3 linked regions of the Homo sapiens genome follow. The protein of the gene in region 2 interacts with the protein of the main gene of each other region in a pairwise test. Each region holds a gene or a part of one and is shown on either strand. Other genes may lie near its edges.

Region 1 (7,333 bases), on a different chromosome or scaffold from region 2:
TCTCAGGCTGACACTCCACTTCTCTGTTCCCCTTTGTAAGAAAACTCCCCCAACGAGTTGTTTATACTTGCTATCCCCTCTCATTTTCTCTTGAACCTACCCTAATCAGGCCGCACCCTCACCACTCCATGGATGCGTTTTGCCAGTGCCAAATTCACAGATCAAGTCTCAGTCCTAATCGTCCTTGACTGACAGCATTTCCTCTCTCCTGGCTATGTGAATCACTTGGCTTCCAGTACACCACTCTCTCTCAGCTCTCCTCCTGTCTCACCGACTGTTCTTTCTCAGTCTCCTTTGCTAGCTTCTTTCTGACTTCCAAAAGCTGAAATGCTCTCAGACTACTTCTTCTTACCACGTGATACTCTATTTCTGATGGTCCTGTTCAATCTTGGCCTTTAAATACTAAATACTGATAAATTTCCAAATTTAAATCTCCAGCCCAGACTAAAGAGTCCTAAGCTCCAGGTTCACATATGCTCCAGCCTTCACTATATTCTCCACTTAGATGACTAAGAAGTAAATCAAACTTACAAATATCAAACTAAGCTCTTGGTCTCCACTCCAATGATCAGCTCTTCCCTTCATCTTTCCACTTCGGTAAATGGTACCTCTAAACTTCTACATGTTTAGGCCACAAATCTTGAGGTCATACTTAACACCTCTTTCTCTCATCCCCCACATCCAAATTTACCAGCAAATCTTCTTAGCTTTTCCTTTAAAATAAACCTAGCACGTGTCTAGTCTCCAAAGTGCATTTTTAAAATTTACATTACTTCCAAAAGCAAAAGCCACTATTCCTCAAGTTCAAATATGGCTGAAGTGAGTTACCATGTACTTACCTATTACTCTTTCTACTATCTGATACTGTTTATTCAACTCTGAAGCCAGCTCCTGTTGGCAATTGAAATATTCTACATCTTCAGGAGAAACTTTCCCTAACCTGAATGGCAGACAGACAGAAAAAGTACACATAAACTAAAGTCTGGGGATCCACATACATCAAAGCAAAAGTCAAAGGTGGAAAAGAAAACCTATTTTTTACTCCCATCTGCCCCTTAAGTAATCTTTACTAGTAATTACGCCAGAGATTTTACAAAACAAAACAAACAAACAAAAAAAACACTTTTAGAGAACACTGAAAACCTTACACTCATAGAAGGATATACCAGTTACCTGCCTCTGATGTGTCCTGTCTAAAAAGAGACCCAAAAATAACTCTTTTATGTGATAGATTCATGTGGCAAATTCATACATCTCAACAAATCAGGATAATAAAACTGTACGCCTTTTCTTATATATATATGGGTTTTAGGATTGATTAAACATGACTTGGAAAACTAGTTATTCTTATTACCAAAACCTTTCAGATGACAACAGCAGCAACTTAATATTAGAATTATTATATTTCAGAGGATTTCAAATTTCTAACTGCTTTACAAGCCTACCTCACCATCTAAGGGGTACATATTTTCAGTTTTGAGTCAAAGAAAAAACATGTAATTTACTAAAGTAGCACATTTTGCACAGTAGTAAAACCAGAATTACTGTCCACATTCCAGACACAAAAATCTATGCACATTCCAGACACAAAAATAGGCTAATCACACCACACAGACAGGTATGTCTTCAGGCTGAGCTTGATACCATTATTACCCAGTTTAGGTTTTTGTGTGCTATAGCTCCACATATTTCCCATATACAACACCCAGACATTCAAGGCTGTAAGTAAACTAAACACACGAGGACTATCACAGTTTCAGTAGTTAACCTAATAATTTCCTTCACATCATTTCTGCAAATTGTATAAAACCAGAATTTGTTTTAAGTATATCATAACCCAGAGAGTTCCAGAATATTAACTCTCTACATCTAAGCCACCCCAGCCTAACTACAGGAAAATAACAAGGTGCTTAAGAGAATAAGCTCTGGATTCAGGGCATCAGAATTCAAAACCTGAGTCCACTTGCAGAATTGCTGTGTGCCGTATTCTCCCCATCTACAAAATGGGTAATAACAGTACAAATCTCATGCACTTATTGTGAAAACTAAAGAATGTGTGAATAACGCTCCATAAGCTAGTTAACTCCAAAAACTTGGTAGCCACATATAAAAATATAGTATCTGAAGGTCACAATCTTATAAAATAGAATTGTAAATGGCTCCATGTTTAGATGATCAAAGCAAAATCTGAGATTCTAGATAGCTGTGATCTCCATGCATTATTTTAAAACCTTCCCTTCTTTCAGGCTGCAAATACATTTCTTTAATCCATGATGGAAAATATACCATTGTTTGATTTCGTCCTCTTTTTTCTTGAAGTTCTCTAGTTTTTTTAGGCCCTTCACTTTCTGTTGCTGTAAGGATTCTTCACTCTCCCATGTGCTGTGGATGTAAGACCAACCCTTCCACTTGATGAGGTACTGGATTTCACCTTCATCCTTTTCAGTGTCAAAGTCACCACTAGGGTCGCCATTAGCTTCAATCGCATATACAGTAGTAGATGCTCCAGTGGCTGCAAAAGGATTAAGTACACTTGAAAGAGAGTATATTACACCAGATATTAAAAAGCTTCCCAAGAATGCAATTATCTGAAGACTCCCTTTGTGGATGAAGCACCAAAATACTTCAACTTGAAATAAGTACAAACTCACAAACAACACAGAACGGACTCAATCAAAAATTTCAAGTATTTTAAAAATGTAAACCACTTTTTACATATTCCTAAATTTGCAGGTGAAATCAAAGAAATCCCTTATTCAAAAACAATAAAAACAGAGCAGCAACATCCTTTTGTTTTGGTCCCTTACTAACTCGGAAAACAAATCCCTCTCTCCAAGACTAAGGATAGAACACCAAAATATCCTCCTCCAACCTCCCCTACTCGAAGTCCCCGGTTAACTTTCTTAACCTCAATCGAAGCCAGAATGAAAAAAAGAAAAAAAAAAAAAAGCCAAAAGAAAAAGCATTAAGTATTATTTTGGTATTTCCTTTACAGAAAGTTTACTTTAATGCAACTTAGTTATGAGATATCTAAATTAGATATTTAAAAATCTTCAATATTACCACAATATTTATTTAACCAGTTTGATATTTTCACAAGGAGCTTAAGAAACAAATAACCAAAGGTGGATTTGCTTAATGTTAATTAGCAGGTATCTCTGCTATATCACTGCTTTATAAAACATTGACACTTATCTATACTAGCTTAATTTAAAATCTTAAAGACATAGTGTACACATACCTTTGTCCTCAGCTCTGAAACACTGGGTCAGAAAGACTTCTACATATCACAACAAATACAGCAGTAGACTAAAATTCATCACATTAGAGTTAAAATACCTAAAATCTAAGTCTTACTAAGCATACATAAAATGTAATTTGCTCCCCAAATACACATACCTCCTTTCTTTCCCAGTCTTGAATCTAAGACCTTTTCAATAGTTTCACTATTATCTTGCTGTTCATCAACTCCTTCTCCAGTCATTTCAATGAGATCATCTGAGTCAGTCTCAAAGTCATCATCTTCTTTGTAACTGCAAGAGGAATAATGCTGAATAAATGAGAAATGATCTCTTCAGAATTAAACTGCCACACATAACCGTCACTAGAATAAGAAACCATACCCTTTTGGTTCCAAAAGCATGTTGTTTTATAGATCTGCCATTTACAGTAGGCTCAAAGCTTACTTTTTTTTCCTAAAGTGCTGATGAATGCTCCTAAACAACTGTAGGGAGTCTAACTCAATTTGAAAATAAAAATTCTATATTTATACTGATTTGTATAAGCAAGATATAGAAAACTATAAGGACACTTCTATTTTTTTCATTTTTTAGTATCAGATTATTATGTAAACAAGTAGACTACCACACAAAAAAAGAAAAACCATAATGGAAGAAAAAATTTGCTACTATTTCATCAGGCAAAAAGAGAAGCAATATTTCTAAAATTAAAAATGTCAACCCTGTATGTTGTCTCCCAGTAATAAGAATATGAAATTTAAGTATTCCCAGACTGCTGGAAGCTTCAACACAAATACTTCCTGGTTTAAAAAAAGAAACATATTGGCTAGGCGCGGAGGCTCACACCTGTAATCCCAGCACTTTGGGAGGCTGACACAGGTGAATCACGAGGTCAGGAGTTAGAAACCAGCCTGGCCAACATGGTGACCGTATCGATTAAAAATACAAAAATTAGCCGGCATGGTGGGCGCCTGTAATCCCAGCTACTCTGGAGGCTGAGGCAGCAGAATCACTTGAATCCGGGAGGCAGAGGTTGCAGTGATCCAAGATCGCGCCACTGCACTCTAGCCTGGGCAACACAGCAAGACTCCGTCTCAAAAAAAAAAATTATATATATATATTTATATATATATTTATATTTATATTTATATTTATATATATTTATATTTATATATATTTTATATATATTTATATGTATATTTATATATATATTTATATATATTTTTATATATATTTATATGTATATTTTTATATATTTATATATTTATATATATTTTTATATATTTATAATATTTATATATATTTATATTTATTTATATATTTATATATTTTTTATATTTTTTATATATATTTTTATATATGTAACTTCCTATCACATATTAACAATGAATGATTGAGTCACAAGAAAGAAAAACAATCCTGGATGTAGTACAGTTACAGTAAGAAAAAGTGCTAGGCTATACACTAGCATACTCAAAGCCCAGTCCTAGCTTTGGAATTATTAACTGGATACATTGAATAAGTTATGAATATCTCTAGGATTCATTTTCACCATCTCTATGAAGAACAAATCTGTAAAATCTAAAAAAAAAAATACTTGATTTCTATAAAGTAAACTACTAGTGTTTGCATATATCTGTTCCTTTATTTCATTTTCCTTTTTCTTTTTGAGACAGGATCTAGCTTTTTTGCCTGGAGTGGAGTGCAGTGGCGTGATCTCAACTCACTGCAACCTCCATCTCCCAGGATTCTCCCACCTCAGCCTCCCAAGTAGCTGGGACTGCAGGTGCATGCCGCCACCACACTCGGCTTTTTCTTATTTTTTGTAGAGACAGGGTCTCGCCCTGTTGTCTAGGCTGGTCTCAAACCCCTGGGCTCAAGCAATCTGCCTGCCTCGGCCTCCCAAAGTGTTGGAATTACAGGCATGAGCCACTGAGCCTGGCCTATTTCACTAATGATAATTCCTATTAATGCTTCATATCCTATTAGTACTTGATAAAATCAGATTCAAGTAGCAATACGTTAAGCTGAACCTCAGAAAAACGTCTGTGATTCAAAGAGCAATTCAGAAGTAGGAATATAATCCAAATATCTTTAATGGAAAAAAATGTTATGAAATGAAGATAATGCCACTAAGTCACCATTGGACAGGACACGAACTTGTGGTGTTTTTTAGGAATGAAGGCTTCAAATGAGCTATTGCTACTCTTTTCCTATTCCCCTTGGCTCAATACCACTCTTTTTGCAAGAAAGCTAACCAGATTTCTGAAAACAACTTCAGGACATAGGCTGTTATTTTTATCTATTAAGTGCACAACCCCGGACTTATGAGAACCAAAATCTAACCAACTACTTTATCACATCACACCAGTGAAACACTTCTGGGGTACAACTTACCTAACGTTTTTAGCCGCTCTTCGACGAGTCTGCCTTTTGGGAGCTTCGTCATCATCATCATCCTCATCAGAAGAATCTTGCTTTTTTCTCTTTCCACGCTGAGTCTTCGGCTGCTTTTTAACACGAGGTTTGGGCACTGTTCTAAAATGAGAAGAGAAACAAAAGGCTAAGTCTTCACTTTATCATTTGGTGTCTACTTTATATAACAGTATTTCCCAGAGCAGTGGTTCATACATCAGAATGTAACATTTCACTTGGGGAATGTTAAACATGCATATTCTTGGGCCCTACTCCCTGAAATTCTAATTCACTAGAAATCTGGATTTCCAACAGGAAGGTCATTCTAATGCTGATAATCCTCAATCATTTATGGGAAAGAACGTGAATGTTTCACAAATGTTCATCAGGATTACCTGATATAAAAACACATACACAGCATGTTGTTCATGATAGTATCTCTTTGGTGGGCAAACTGGAAATAGCTATCAAACTATTTTACTTGTAGGAATTAACAGTTTTACTTGTAGGAATTAATCCTATTGATATACACCTAAACAGGCATAATAAAGTATTCACTATAGCATTATTTGCAACAACAAAACATTAAGAAAACTCTAAATATTCTTCAACTGGAAACTAAACAGTACCATGTACTCATAGAAAAAAAAAAAGAGTTTTTTGTATACTAATACGAAAGGATTTCCAGGATAAAGAAACCTACAGAACAAGCAGCAGAGGATGCTATTATCTGTGTGAAGAAAGTAAAGCACAAGAAGTAACTATACATAAGTTTTTACTGTATGTGTATAAAATATACCTGGAATACTACCTGAGAGACTGTGTGCCCTATCACAGAATTAACTTGGACAGACCAGGGAGATGGCCAGGATTGAAAGCCACAGTCTAGAAGCTCACCTAAGGAAATCCCCAAATATTCCATCAGTGATAAAAAGGTGAAAGAAGTCAGAGAGGGAGAGAAATGGATACTCATGATCACATTTATTATCTCTTTCTCTCATACCTCCCATACCTTTCTCATAACCAAACCTAAACAGATGATCAACGATGTAATAAATAATGAGCAAAATTCTAAAAGACAGAACTGGCGTGACAGTTCTGAGATAAACTTATTAAGCTGAGATAAAATAAGATAAAATTCAGTTGACAAATTCCCCTGCTGGTGTTGGGGGGTAAGTACAATGTCCTAGGCCAGAGGTTGGCAAACTTTTTCTGTAAATGGCCAGAGAGTAAATATTTTAGGCTCTGCCAGCCAAGAGGCAAAATGGGGACCAATGTATAGGTCCTTACATAATGAAAGAAAATAAATTTTCACAAATTTTTTTAAATAATTCAAAATGAAATAATCAGGTACATTTACTGCAATATATATCTACTAATGAGAACAGAATTGTTTTTGAGGGGATAACATTTCACTTAATTGGAGTTCAAATTTAGTGCTCTCTATCCTTAAACTGTAAATTAGAAATGTTCATCTATAAAAACTATTCTTAGCTCACAGGCCATATGAAAATAGGTGGTGGATGAAATTTGGCCCAAAGGGCATAGTTTGCTGAGTCCATTCTAAGCAATACTACAAGGAGGTAATTTTCCCTGGGGCCTGTCTTCTGACTCCCTTTTCCTGTCATCACTATCTTAGGCTGCCATCTGTCTTATCAAAAATTAGCATAATTTGCTGC
Region 2 (8,002 bases):
CTTATTTTTAGAAATAATATTTTATAAATATTTTTCCAAGGCATTAAATGTTTTTATACTTGATTTTTAACATATGCAGAGAATGCATATGTTATTTGCTGAAAAGCCCAAATAGTTGAAAGCAGAATCTTGGCTTCTAGGCCAATGCTCTTCCTTTCATCAACTCCTCCTCATCATTCTCTCACCAATTTATATTCACTCCAGACCAGAGATAATCTTCTACTTTATATCATTTCATAAAATCCATACCCTGCACAACCACTATTTTAATTTACCAAAACCTGTGGGCCAAACTTGCCAGAAACAAACAACTGTGGTTACCAGCCGGTCTTTCCTAGTTGACCTAACAGAGTAATAAATGAATGATGTCTTTTACAATTTCTCAAACCTAATTTCCCACAATATTAGTGACCATTCCAAAGCTGTTACTGGCTAGACCTCCTTCAAAAGGTTAGTCACCCTGCTGTACCAGGAGTAGTATGTCTTATAAGAGATTATGTCTTTTAATTGCTGAATAGTTGCAGACCTGCTGTAAATAAAGCTAATCCATTTCATATGCATGTAAAAGTCTTTGAGAAAGCAAAGATGGGAATTGGCTTAAAGAGACATGAAAGTGATCTACATTTTTCTAAAGACTATATTGGACACTGACTGGTCCCATTTCTAACAATGTCCATATCCCTCCATATTAGAGGTTCTAACACAGTGTCCTGTACATCACATGAAATAAAGCCTGGAAAGTGCTTTGAAAACTGTGGGGGTGCTATGCCAATATTAGGGATAGTAATTGGTGGGTGCCCAATAGCTGTTAGTTGCTTCGTACATGCATTTCAGAGTCTCTCTATCCTTCACTAGAAGCATTTGCTTCTTCCTAATTGAAACATGTACTTGTGCAAATGTTCTCTAGGACTAGGTCACTGAGAAAAAGTAGCTAGTGTTCTGTGTGCTCCTCAGTACTGGATCCACTGCACTGGGTTTGGCTGAATTTCTTAAAGATGAGGAGGGTCAATTACACTATATTATAGAAATACTCCATGTGTGCACAGACATGCATATACCCAGAGGAAGACCCTCATTAGTGGGATGAAAAACTCATTAGGGAAAACTCATTAGATTTATTAGAGGAACAGAAAAAAAAAGATCCTGGAAGAAACATTTAAAAGCAGGGAGGAGAGGACTGGGGAGGATGGGAGAACTGCAGGAGGCAGTGGGTGGAGGGGATGGCAGGTAAAGGGTACAGAATTTCTCTTTGGGCTAATGAAAAGGTTCTAAAATTGATCAAGGCAATGGAAGTATATCTCTGTGAATATCTTGAAAGCCATGGAATTGTACATTTTAAATGGTGAGTTGTAAGGTATATGAATAAAGATATTTTAAAATGCAAAATGTGGGAGAGGGGCAGAGAAAAGAAGGCTTAAATAAATGTAAATAATTTAAGTAAAATTGTGGCTTGATATATAAAATAAATAGTCTAACTGAAAATATAAATCATTATATGCAATATTTTGAAGCTATTCAAGATGGAAATGATGGGGGTAAAAGAACTGGTTATCACACACAGCACCATGAGGGCCTGCTTTTTCAGCCCCCAGACAGAGCCTGTTTCTGCTTTGGAGTGTAGCAATGACACTTTATTACTACCCAGCCTTGCTCTATCAGTGTGACTACAGGAGTAGACTTACTGAACAGAAGAGTAATACAGGCATTTCTGTGTTCAGAATCTTCACATATTCATTTACAGCAGACATTTCTCTTTGCAGTTTTTCTTGTGGGTTTTATAATAATTTGCAATATATATACAAGTTGAAGAAACCACCTTAACTATTGTCTATACTTCTTCAGTTTTTTGGTACAAAAATAAGCTTCTTTCAATAAGACTCTCAAATTTTTTAAAGTGCAGCTATTTTTTACATTTTTACATCCAGATTTGGTAAGGTATTGAAAGAATATTGTATTTCAGATACAATTGGTGGGAATGTAAGTTGGTACAACCCTTTTGCAGAGCAAATTGACAAAATCTATCAAAGAGAAAAATGCGCATACCTGTCGACCCAGCAATATCACTCAGCAATTTATACTCTAGAGGATCAATTACACTATATTATAGAAATACTCCATGTGTGCACATACATGCACATACACAGAGGCAGAAAAATACAGTTTATTTTCTACTACCCACAGGTAGGATAGTGAGTTTCATAGCAACCCTAATAAAAGCAAGTTGGAACATTTGTCAGAATTATTTCCTTCAAACTCCTTTTTAGAATCCCTGGAGAGTCATTTAAACAGTGAACCACTGACCTAATTAACACAGTTAATCAGGATAAATAAGAAAGCAAAAGCTCTAATTCTTGAGACAGAGGTCTAATTCTTAATCCTAAACAAATCTGAGCAATGTTGATCATACTTTTGAAAGAATAGCCTAAAAGACAGGCTTACTCAGGGTTTTCATTACATTTCTGCAAAATGGCAGGTACTTCAACTCCAATCAAAAGAATTTCCACTTTTTTTTTATTAGAATCACAGTTTGCAAAAGAGTCGATGTCTATAATGGGGATTGGCTGAGTCCTTTAGAACTCTGTCTGGTAATGAGGCTGCATCAAAAATGGCTTTTCATGGTCGGGCACTGTGGCTCACTCCTGTAATCCCAGCAATTTGGGAGGCCAAGGTGGGAGGATCACTTGAGCCCAGGAGTTTGAGAGCAGCCTGGGCAACATAGGGAGACTCCCATCTCTAATAAAAAAAAAAAAATGGCTTTCCTACTATGTGGACTGTGAAGCAGCTTTTACTTGTGGTGACCAGGTCTTAAAATAATAATGTGATTTTTATTTTGTGGTAAGAGTGATAAAAATTCAGAATTCAGTAAGAGTAAAGCAGGAAAAGAGAGTTTTAAAAACACTATTCCAAATGTAGTGTTAAATATTTAAGATGAGCTTCTGTTACTGAAAACACAGAATGCAGTCTTACAAATTTCTTAATTAAAGGTATAAAGTTGGCCAGATCTACATCTTTCTGCCCAGGCCATTCAAATTAACCTAGAAAATTATCTTCTGAATTAAAAAAAACTAAGAATGAGCCATTCCCCGCAAAAAGGATCCATTTAAACTGTAAGAGATGGTGTGCCCCTGAAATGGACACAATTACATGCTCATTAATTTCTGTGTACAAAGAAAGGAGGCCCAGAAGTGAACATCTAATCTAGGTGTCTCATTTGCATGTTTCAATAATCTGGCTGTTTTTGTTTTCTTTCATTTCCTTTGTGGGCTATTGTGCCACAAATATACCTCCATTATCAAATTCAAAATTGAATCCTATGATACCATAGCCTGAGGAAAAGGAAGCATTGAATATCATTCCCAGTTTTAGACCCAGAAGATATTTAGGAAATGTTACTGTATATACACCACATGCAACATTAGTGCTTTTAATTTCCTTTTTACGGGTGCAATGGAGATTAATTTGCATGAGCTCGTTTCAATTTCAGTAATAAGATCCAAATTTTGCATTAAGCTTTCAATCTCAAAAACAAACAGTTAAAAAGCATACATCACTTCTTTCAAATGTCTTTACTATACTTCTGTTTTACAGTCCCTGCATCTAATATTCCCCTAAAAGGTTGAATATATATACCTGTAGGTTCTAATTTGTTTCTTGTTTGTTTCCTGACTATCTCCTGGCTCTGCCAGGAAACTTCCTAACTTTCAAATGCTGTACAACCCAAAAAAATGCTAGAAATATCAAAAGAAGTGTCTACAGATCCAGAAAAGACATTTATTGAATTTAATACAATGTCAGAATTGGTCAACTATGCTCAGAAACATAGGACCAAGTGTTCCCTAATTTGAGAGGGTAAATAAGTAACAACAGAAATAAGAGAAAAAACCATAGATATTTCAAATGATCCTGTTTTAATAATTGTCACTGAAAATTAAAGTCCGATCCAGATACCAAATCTGTTTCAACAATAATAGCTAGAGACAAGAGTAAAAATTTCTTTAAAGTTTTAAAACAGGTGGAAGAAGATCCAGAAATATTTATTCCAAGATTTGTAAGCGGGGATAAAACATGGCTACACTGGATAGTCCTGAAGAAAGAGCACAAAACAAAGGCTACCAAAAGGTGGCAGCACTCCAGTCAAAGACAGAGAGGACCAGTCAAGAGAAGAGGTCATGGCAACAGTTTTGGGGAATGCTCAAAAGATATGACTAAAAGACTTTTTGAAGGGCCAAACCAAGATCAAATATGCTTACTAACAGAGTTTTTGAGAAAACTAGCCAAAGCATGAGCAGAAAAACCATTACCAGAGAGTTCTACCTAATCATGAAAAAGTTCTTGCTGTAGCATTTCACTGAACAAAGGGCAGTTTGGCAAGAGTTTCAAAAGGAGATCATGAGGCGTCCACCTTGCAGTCATGATGTGGAACCTGCTGACTTCTATTTATTTCCTCGTATTAAAAATTCTGCAAACGGCACCCAGTTTTCTTCAGTTAATAATGGAAAAAAGATTTCTTGGAAATAGTTAAATTCCCAGAAACATCAGGGCTTGAGGGACAAGGCGGGGTCAAGACAGTGCTCGAACTACTGTCTCGAAATTGATGGAGCAGATGTTAAGAAATAAAATCTACCGGTTTTATTTTTGTCTTTTAATCCCTGTTTTGACAAATTTGGGAAGTCCCCTCACACAACATCAGTCCTAGGCAAAGAGTTGTTATCCTGTATTGGTTCTTCTTTCTATGATTTTGTCTTGCTGTGTTATTTTCTGTTTTACTCCCAAGAAGATTCAGTCTGTGTTTTTTGGAATTCACAGATGTGGAACCTGCGAACATGGAAGGTCAACGGTAAAACTCAGTGGGGTGTGTCGAGGCTGAAATTAACCTAATCAACCTCTGGGGCACAGCAGTCCACCTGGCGTGGACCGTCCCGATTGTCTGCATTGTGCTGACGGCATGAGTACGTATGGGGGCGGGGCAGCCCAAGAGCTAAGAGGGTCAGGGCTAGAGCCGTGAGTGTCAGCCTGGGATGGGCTACATAAGGCCCAGCTCTGGCACCAGAGCTTCATTCTTTGTTGCACAGCAAACTGCAGAGGTCACTCCAGGCTGTGGCTCCACATCCCGAGGAACAAAAGCGGGCCTGCTCAGCTGTCTGCAAGGACGGCCGTTCCAGACCAAGTGGCCTGCTGCTCCGAGGACCCAGCTCGCTCCAGGCTGTGACTCCACATCCCGAGGTCGCTGCCTGGCGACCGGGCAGCGAGGACCGGCCACCCCAGACTTCCTGTCCCGCAGCCCCAAAGACAGAGCTGCGACCGCCGGGACAGCGACGCCTGCACAGCTCTGGTGAGATGGCGGCAGGGTCCACTACGCTGCACGCAGTGGAGAAGCTGCAGGTGCGTCTGGCCACTAAGACGGAGCCGAAAAAGCTAGAGAAATATTTGCAGAAACTCTCCGCCTTGCCCATGACGGCAGACATCCTGGCGGAGACTGGAATCAGAAAGACGGTGAAGCGCCTGCGGAAGCACCAGCACGTGGGCGACTTTGCCAGAGACTTAGCGGCCCGGTGGAAGAAGCTGGTGCTCGTGGACCGAAACACCCGGCCTGGCCCACAGGACCCTGAGGAGAGCGCTTCCCGACAGCGCTTCGGGGAGGCTCTTCAGGACCAGGAAAAGGCCTGGGGCTTCCCAGAAAACGCGACGGCCCCCAGGAGCCCATCTCACAGCCCTGAGCACAGACGGACAGCACGCAGAACACCTCCGGGGCAACAGAGACCTCACCCGAGGTCTCACAGTCGCGAGCCCAGAGCTGAGAGAAAGTGCCCCAGAATAGCCCCAGCTGATTCCGGCCGCTATCGGGCCTCTCCAACGCGCACAGCTCCCCTCCGGATGCCCGAGGGCCCTGAGCCCGCTGCGCCCGGGAAGCAACCCGGAAGAGGCCACACTCACGCGGCTCAGGGCGGGCCTCTGCTGTGTCCAGGCTGCCAGGGCCAACCCCAGGGGAAAGCCGTTGTGAGCCACAGCAAGGGGCACAAATCGTCTCGCCAGGAAAAACGCCCCTTGTGTGCCCAGGGAGATTGGCACTCCCCTACTTTGATCAGGGAGAAATCATGCGGGGCCTGCTTAAGAGAGGAAACCCCAAGGATGCCCTCCTGGGCAAGTGCCAGGGACAGGCAGCCTTCGGACTTCAAGACAGACAAGGAAGGGGGGCAAGCTGGCAGCGGCCAGCGTGTCCCTGCCTTGGAGGAGGCTCCAGACAGTCACCAGAAGAGGCCTCAGCACAGTCACTCGAACAAGAAGAGGCCCAGTCTAGACGGCCGGGACCCAGGAAATGGGACACACGGCCTGTCGCCCGAGGAGAAAGAGCAGCTTTCCAACGACCGAGAGACTCAAGAGGGGAAGCCACCGACTGCTCATTTGGACAGAACGTCCGTGAGCTCCCTCTCTGAGGTGGAGGAGGTAGATATGGCTGAGGAATTCGAGCAGCCCACTCTGTCATGTGAAAAATACCTCACCTACGATCAGTTGCGGAAGCAAAAGAAAAAGACTGGAAAATCTGCCACCACTGCACTTGGAGATAAACAAAGGAAAGCAAACGAATCCAAGGGCACTCGTGAGTCCTGGGATTCGGCTAAGAAATTGCCTCCTGTCCAGGAAAGCCAGTCAGAGAGGCTGCAGGCGGCCGGCGCTGATTCCGCCGGGCCGAAAACGGTGCCCAGCCATGTCTTCTCAGAGCTCTGGGACCTCTCAGAGGCCTGGATGCAGGCCAACTACGATCCGCTTTCGGATTCTGACTCCATGACCTCCCAGGCAAAGCCAGAAGCACTCTCTTCACCAAAGTTCCGGGAGGAAGCTGCTTTCCCTGGACGCAGAGTGAATGCTAAGATGCCGGTGTACTCGGGCTCCAGGCCTGCCTGCCAGCTCCAGGTGCCGACGCTGCGCCAGCAGTGTGCCCAGGTGCTTAGAAACAATCCGGACGCCCTCAGCGACGTGGGAGAGGTCCCCTACTGGGTTCTTGAACCTGTTCTGGAAGGGTGGAGGCCCGATCAGCTGTATCGCAGAAAGAAAGACAATCACGCACTCGTTAGAGAGACAGACGAATTACGGAGGAATCATTGTTTCCAGGACTTCAAGGAAGAAAAGCCACAGGAAAACAAAACTTGGAGGGAGCAGTACCTGCGGCTTCCGGACGCCCCAGAGCAGCGGCTGAGAGTAATGACAACGAATATCCGATCTGCACGTGGAAACAACCCCAACGGCAGAGAGGCAAAGATGATCTGTTTCAAATCTGTGGCCAAGACGCCTTATGATACTTCAAGGAGGCAAGAGAAGTCTGCAGGAGACGCTGACCCCGAAAATGGGGAGATCAAGCCAGCCTCCAAGCCCGCGGGAAGCAGCCACACTCCCTCCAGCCAGAGCAGCAGCGGCGGTGGCAGAGACAGCAGCAGCAGCATCCTTCGCTGGCTCCCTGAGAAGCGGGCCAACCCCTGCCTGAGCAGCAGCAATGAGCACGCGGCGCCCGCGGCCAAAACCCGGAAACAGGCTGCCAAGAAAGTGGCCCCGCTGATGGCCAAGGCAATTCGAGACTACAAGAGAAGATTCTCCCGACGATAAACTCAGGACTTGCCTTGCAGATAAAATCTGGGGGGATTTTTGCATTGGCAAAGTCAATGCGGGTTGGGGAACGAAACTTCCAATGGACACCAGAACCTTTAACTTGGTGCAAAGTTGAGCCTTTGAATTCTGCAGGTGTCATGTGCTGGCCCTGTGATTTTGCCTCCCACACCCAGCCACTACCTCCCAGCTTGGAGAACACCTCAGAATTCAGAAGATATGAACGCATTGGGAACAATTCTATTTTGGATGTTCACTGATAATTTTTAAAAACACCCTAGTTGTAATCATAAATAAGGAAAAAGATGTGAGATTTCCTTTTTCCTTTCTTTTTTTTTTCGAAATCAAGTAGATAAGAACTTCTTAGACAAAAACACACAAGCCATTAGTTGACACTGATAAC
Region 3 (7,333 bases), on a different chromosome or scaffold from region 2:
AAAGTCAGACTCCTTAAAAAGGCTGTGAAGCAGGGATTAGAAAAAATTTCACTCACTGAAAGAAGCAAGAATGCGTATAGTGTGTTTGAGTTCCCATAAGATAATTAGAAGAAAACAAATAAGAATTGGCAACCTCAGCCTATACCTTGTAAGTATATGTAAGTATGAGGAGTGAATTTACACGGCTTCCTGTGAAGCAGGAACTATTTTTCCCATGCTAAGAAATTAATGTTAAAAATTGTGCTGATATCAAATCAAATTTAAAAAATTAAGTCCAACTACGTGTTGTGATTAATAAAACTACACATAAAACTAAAAACTACACAGAAATTTTCAAAATAAAGGGACAAGGAAAAAACACATATTTGATTGAACATTGCTGATATTCCACTATTTTACCTACAAAAATGGCAATTTCATATTACCCAACGAATAATAAACAAAAGAGCACTAGTGGAACTGTTAGCGGTGGTGGGTATCCTAGTTACCGGTGGCGAATCCGTCCAGGTCTGCAGCAACCTCTATTCTTGCCACCTCAGAAGAAAGAATTCTACTGAGGGTCATGAGACAGAAGAAGAGACTGAGGCAAGTTTCAGAGCAGGAGTAGACATTTATTAAAAAGCTTTAAAGCAGGAACGAAAGAAAGGAAAATATACTTGGAAGAGGCCCAGACAGGCACCTTGAGGTTAAGTGCCCCAATTAACATTGAACCTAGCATTTTACATGCTGGCTTACTTCCAGCGTCTTGCACCCCTTTCCCTTCATTGTTCTCTTATGCATGGTGCCCTACCTGCGCTTGGGAGGTGAGCATGCACAGTGTGTTTACTGGAGTTGTACACATGTTCACCTGAGGCTTTTTCTTCCCTTTTCTGGTGGAATGCCCCCAGAAGGTCATACTCCTTCATTTTTGCCTCTTAATGCACATGCTTGTGTCCACTTGCCCGGTTCCTGAGATCTTATTGGAAGCTGCTGATTATCAATTTCAGGTATTTTTATCTGTTCAGAAACTGCTTCTCCCTGGCACTGGCTGTGACCAATTATCATTTTAGAGAGACAGTGTGACAGCTGCTGGACCATCACTTGATGGTTGCCTGATGTTCCTTTGTGAGTGGGGGAGCCCTCTCCTGCTCCACTCATGCCTGACTAGCTACCTACTATAACAGAACCATTATAATTTCAGACTTTTGAGGCAAAAGCACTACTGGTGATAAGTGGAAACTCACGAACAATAAACTAAAAAGATAAAGTAATGATCTTCAAAGCATTTACTAATGTCTCAAAATATATAGCAAAATCTGTGTTACAAGGAGAAATTGACAAATCTACCCTAGAGAAAACCTGGTGCATGCCCACAGAGATGTCTACAGCTGCTCATTTCAACATTATTTATAATAGCAATTATTGACAAATCAATACTTGTATAATTTTAAGTACTTCTATCAGAAGTTATTAGACAAAAAAATTAAGATGGAGAAGAGTTGAACAAGCAAACAGATATAGAACCCTTTTCAACAAATAACAATATATGGTTGTGTTGTTTAACAACAGGGATACATTCTGAGAAGTGTGTCATTAGGCAATTTCATCTTTGTGTGGAAATTATAGAGTGTACTTTCACAAACTTGGATGTATAGTCTACTACACACCTAGGCTACATGGTATAGCCTATTGTTGCTAGGCTATGAACCTGTATAGCATGTTACTGTACTGAATAGTGTAGGCAGTTGTAACACAGTAGTAAGTATTTGTGTGTCTAAACATATCTAAACATTGACAAGGAACAGTATTATTATCTTATGGGACCTGTGTTGTCTATGTGGTCCATCATTGACCTAAACACCATTATGCAGTATATGACTGTGTTTTCAAAATACATAACAAATCTTTCCTAAATTTACTACATCCTAGGCCACAAAAGAAGTCTCATCAAATACCAAAGAACTAATATCATACAGATCCCATTCTCTGATAACAGTGTAGTAAATTTAGAGATTGACAATAAACACAAAGCCTGAAAACTCCATATGTTTGGAAGCTAAAAAGAGTGCTTCTGAATGATTCATTTGTTAGGAAATCACAGTGAGGAAAACTTGTTCCAATAATATGGCAGACTAGACTAAGAAACAACTAAGAAACTTGTATAAAATGTGCAATACATATTTTAGATACATTAATATACTAGAAAAAAATAAAGAACTAAGAATATTCAAAGGCCAACAACCAAAGGAAAGGAGAAGTTCCAGGAATTAAGCCTTGAGGATATTTGATGAACCCTAGGCTCTTGAACTTCTATTTTTTATGGGCTGGCAGGATGTGGGGGATAAAAATAAGGCCCAGGGCCCTGCCCAAGCCAAATTGGAACTCTATTTAGAGAGTCTCTGGTATAAACCTAGGACTCCCAAAGGACTTCACCCACAAAATAAGAGACAACTGGAAACAACCCCTAGCATAGATTTGTAGTGAATCATTAGTGGATCGTGAAATGAATTATTTGATCACCATTAGCCTTGGTTGTTTTGAACATTGAATATAGAAATCTTTCAATTAACTTTTGTTTCAGTTTTTGTGTGTTAGGGTGTATTTATCCATGAATGTGTGTATGAGTGCACTTGTTTGCATTATTTTTTACTGTTCTCGGTTGTTAAGAAAACTTGAAAGCTGCTACCCTAAAGAAAACCTAGTACATGTGCACAAAGAGACATGTACAACTGCCCATTTAAACACTTTTTATAATAGCAAACTACTGGAAGCAACCTACGTTTCTATCAATAGTACAGCAAATAAATATAATTTTCATACAGTAGAACATTATCGATTAGATAAAATGAGCAAATTACACCTGTTATGTTAACATAGATAAATCACAAAATATTGGGTGGCAGGAAAAAATTGCAGGTATAGGTATAATTGAGTTTATTTTTTTAAGAATACATATCACAATATGTTGTTTGGGAATGATAGAGACCAACTTCAGTGCAGTTGCTTCAGAGGACAAAAAAAAAAAAATGGAATGAGATTGAGAAAGTGTTCCAAAAGTTGATACAAGCTCTCCAGCTGTGTGTGTGTGTGCGCACAGGCATGCGAGTGAGCTTTTTCCTTAAATGAATTGAAAGTGAGCATGACAAAATGTTAACATTTGGATGATAGGTATTTAGGTATTGGTTATATTATTTTCTTTACTTTTATAGTGTTTGTAATATTTGACTTTCTAAAACATATACATAAGTAGATAACTGTTGTAGTTTTCTTATAGGGTAGAGTCTTTAGGGAAATGATGCAAGAATTAAATGTTTAGGTATTCTTTAGTAAAGCACATTCAGTTATATTAATGCTTGTATATTATTATGCCAACTTTAATTAGATGAAAGGTATATAATTGCATGAGTACATTTGTCAAACTGGGAAAGAAAAGGTATGGGAAAGGAATATAATATAAAATCCCAAGTATGATGGTATTTTTTATTTACTTAGTTTAGTTAAAGATATTACTGTATTTTTAGAAAGGGAAATAGAATAACTCAATACTTTGAAATCCATAAGAAGTGGCCCCCAAAAATGCTTATTGAATAAGGAGTTCTGAGGAAGAAAGGAAAAAGTTCTTTCTGAGTATTGCATTCATGGAAAAGTATAGGGAAAATAACCAAACTACTACCAACTGAATAAAAGTTAAAGCTTTCTACATTATATTATTGAAATTGTAACTTACTGGTTACCGTGAGGCAGCAAAACATACAAAAATACATAATGTATCTATAGTTTTATCACTCACATTTTTTTTGTTTGTTTCACTTAGCTGGTCACCTGACTTTTGAATGCCGCAATTTTCTCCGAGTAGACCCTAAAAGGGACATAGTTTTGGATGTCAGCAGTACAAGTAGTGAAGATAGCGATGAAGAGAATGAAGAACTGAATAAATTGCAGGCATTACAGGAAAAAAGTAAGCAATATTTTTTTCCATTCTTTAGAAATGTTTGTAAATGTTCTGTCATATTATATCATGCTTTCCATTATACTTACTAAGATCTCTTTTATAGTTTATGTAAGAGCTACTGCATAGGAAATAGGTTTTAAATATTGTAAGTTATTTGCCTAAGATTGAACAGCTAAGCAATTACAGATCCAGGAGGCAAGTCTATTTCTGACACACAGCTTATGTTTTTTGTTGTTGTTTTTCCCCCATCACATTAGGATATGTGTCAAATGGCTGAAAAAGTGTGATTTAAGATTTGGTTTCTAGTCCTATTTGGCAATTTGTTTTAGCACATGACTTTCACCAAGTGACTTAACCATCCTGAGGCTCAGCTGCCTTGTGGGATAACACAAAATGTTGGATTGTCAAATGATGCTCATGCAGATCAGTGATCTTAGCCAGTATCAAGCTTCACTAATAATTTCAAGTATACAAGTGATCGTGAGGCATAGGCAAAGCAGAGAGTTCTGGGCATGCCAATACAGCTCCCCAGGTATTTCCTTTCTACTTCATAACCCACTGTGATCAATATTAACATAAGAAGTTTCTTTATTACTTATACCAAAGAAAGTTGATTTGGTCATGAAACATACTCATTTTATGCTTGGATAGTTACATTTTCCAGGGAGCTATGCCCCATAAATCTATAGATTCCAGGTTTGTTTACCATAAGCAATCTCAGTTACATCCTACTAAAAGGATGTAAATGATAATTATATAAATAGGGGTTCTATGGCTAACAGATATCATTTATTTTTTTTCCAGGAGATCTATTGTTAGTGTGTTTCAGAGAGATTTCTCCAGGTCACTCTCTGTCTTTCCTGGACACATCCTCCTCTCTCCCTAGAGAGAGAGTGGATAGCGGACCTGTTATTTAACCCTTTCTTTCCCACGTTGTGTATAAAATAGCTCATCCTTGCAGTGGGGTTTTTAGGGATTAAACGTGATGCCATAAATTAAACTACTTTGTAAACTACAAAATGCACTATGGTAAATATCACTCTGAAATAAAATATAACTTATTTGAATATAATCTTAGACAAGGAATGAGAGAGTTACAAATTTTAAATTCATTTTAGTTTAGATTGTCGATGAACATTAAACAGTAAACTTTGTTTTTAATATCAAGCTTTCCATATTATGTCCAGTTAAGGTAAGTGAAGAAGTCAAATGTAAGGTGCTAGAACAAGCTGAAAAGGAAAAAGAGGGAGAGAATCCCAAAGAGGGCAAACAAGAGTCATATCATATATGAGTATATACAGCTTCAGGGTAAAGACAGTTGATTGAATACACACACTTTTGTTCTCTACTGAAATACCACTAAAATGCCAGAAGTAGAAAAAAATTTAAAGACGTAAACTCACAAGGGCAAAGAAACTGAGTTAGGAGGGAATAGCAGTAAAATTTTGGAAACTGAAAAGCAGAAGAGTGATAACTGATTACACTCTTGAAAAAGCTAAATTCTTCAGCAGTGTGGAAAGCTGTGAAGTAACCCGACATATATTCTAGAATCCCCTAAAGACATGATAATTAGTATCCTTGGGTACCTCTGGCTGAATATAAGGCTAAAAACAGGAGGATTGGTTTGAAGTCTCCACGAGTTAGACCCTCAGTTCCCTTCCCCTATGAAGTCAGATGACTTCCCTTCATCACCCCAGCAGACTACTGGAGGTTTATTTTCTAGAGAGGGTAAAACATAGGTTCTTTAGACTGGGACACACTAACCATAGCTGAAAGCAGGGAGGAAGTTAAAGGCTGAGAACTTTCTTCACCTATTTGGTTCCCAGACATATATCACAATTAGTCTAGGAAATACTTCACTCAAATGAGTCCCAGAAAGAAAATTTCGAAGAACTGAAGGACATTAGTTTTACAGTTGAAAAGGTGTCACAAGTACCAAACACAGAGCTAAAAATAGACCCACACAAAGGCACACCATTATAAAACTTCATATCACAGGGAACAAGGAAAATATAATCCAGGCTTCCAGGATCAGGGATTAAACAGGTCATCTGTCAAAGATCAGGAGTCAGAATAGCTTTCCACTTCTCTAAAGCAGTCCTGAAAGCTAATAGATGTGGGGAATGCCTTCACATTTTGGAAGGGAAATTATATCCAAGTCAGAATAATATTTTCAACCAAATTATTAGCCAAGCGTGAAAATAGAATAAAGTTGTTTTCAGATATCTTCATTTTAGGTTGATTTTTATATATGGCATGAGGTGAGGGTACAGTTTTATTCTTTTGTATGTGGATATACACTTGACCCAAGACCATTTGCTGAAGACATCCTTTTCCCATTGTGTGTTCTTAACACCCCTCATGGTCAGTTCATCATATATGCATGGGTTTATTCCTGGACTTCCTATTCTGTTACATTGGTCTATGTGTCTGTCTTTATGTCAGTACAATACTATTTTAATTACTATAGCTGTGTAATATATTTTGAAATCAAGGAATGTGATGCCTACAGCTTTGTTCTTCTTAAGATTGCTTTGGCTGTATGGGGTCTTTTGTGGTTCCGTATACATTTTTGGATTATGTTTTATATATCTGTCAAAAGAGCCATTGGGATTTTGGTAGGGATTCCATTGAATTCATAGATTGCTTTAGATAATGTAGGCATTTTAACAATATTCTTTCAATCCATGAGCACATATATTGTCAAATGCTCTTTCTGCATCTATTGAAATATTCATTTGATTTTTAGCCTTCCTTTCTTAATGTGATGTTTCACATTTATGGATTTGCATATATTGAGCCATCCTTGTGTCCCATGGATGAATCCCACTTGATCATAGTGTATGATCCTTTTAATGTGCTGCTAAGTTTGGTTTGCTAGAATTTTGCTGAAGATTGTTGCATATATGTTCATCAGGTGTATTGGTCTGTAATTTTATTTTCTTAAGGTACCTTTGTCTGGCTTTGGTATCAGGGTGATACCAGCCTTGTAAAATAAGTTTGGAAGTGATCTCTTCTCTCCAGTTCTTTAGAAGTGCTTTGGAAGAATTGGCTTAATTGCTCTTTAAATGTTTGGTTGACTTCACCAGCAAAGCCATCTAGTCCTGGGCTTTTCTCTGCTGGGAGGATTACTGACCCAGTGTCTTTACTTGTTACTGGTCTGTTCCTATTTTCGATTTCTTCATGATTCACTCCTGATACATTTTATGTTTCAAGGAGTGTATTCTTGTAAGTTACCCAATTTGTTGACATATAAATGTTCCTTGTATTCTCTTATATAGTTATATATTTATATAACACCCCTTTATATTTCTGTGACATCACTTATACTCTCTTTTTTCAGTTCTAATTTTGGCCCTGTCTTTTTTCTGAGTTAGTCTAGTTAAAGATATGTCAGTTTTA

Evidence for each region. The genes of interacting proteins can lie anywhere in the genome.
Region 1: the proteins of ELOA2 (region 2) and CHD2 interact in binary tests that used the Homo sapiens proteins (3 or more experiments, as listed by UniProt).
Region 3: the proteins of ELOA2 (region 2) and SREK1IP1 interact in binary tests that used the Homo sapiens proteins (3 or more experiments, as listed by UniProt).

The regions. Positions count from the first base shown.
Region 1 is NC_000015.10:92,938,022-92,945,354, reverse strand, and holds part of CHD2 (chromodomain-helicase-DNA-binding protein 2), read right to left. Parts: intron 5,778-7,333; coding exon 5,637-5,777; intron 3,534-5,636; coding exon 3,400-3,533; intron 2,513-3,399; coding exon 2,287-2,512; intron 941-2,286; coding exon 840-940; intron 1-839. UniProt on the Homo sapiens protein: ATP-dependent chromatin-remodeling factor that specifically binds to the promoter of target genes, leading to chromatin remodeling, possibly by promoting deposition of histone H3.3.
Region 2 is NC_000018.10:47,032,600-47,040,601, reverse strand, and holds the start of ELOA2 (elongin-A2), read left to right. Parts: upstream 1-4,980; 5' UTR 4,981-5,337; coding exon 5,338-7,599; 3' UTR 7,600-8,002. UniProt on the Homo sapiens protein: SIII, also known as elongin, is a general transcription elongation factor that increases the RNA polymerase II transcription elongation past template-encoded arresting sites.
Region 3 is NC_000005.10:64,737,661-64,744,993, reverse strand, and holds part of SREK1IP1 (protein SREK1IP1), read left to right. Parts: intron 1-3,793; coding exon 3,794-3,937; intron 3,938-7,333. UniProt on the Homo sapiens protein: Possible splicing regulator involved in the control of cellular survival.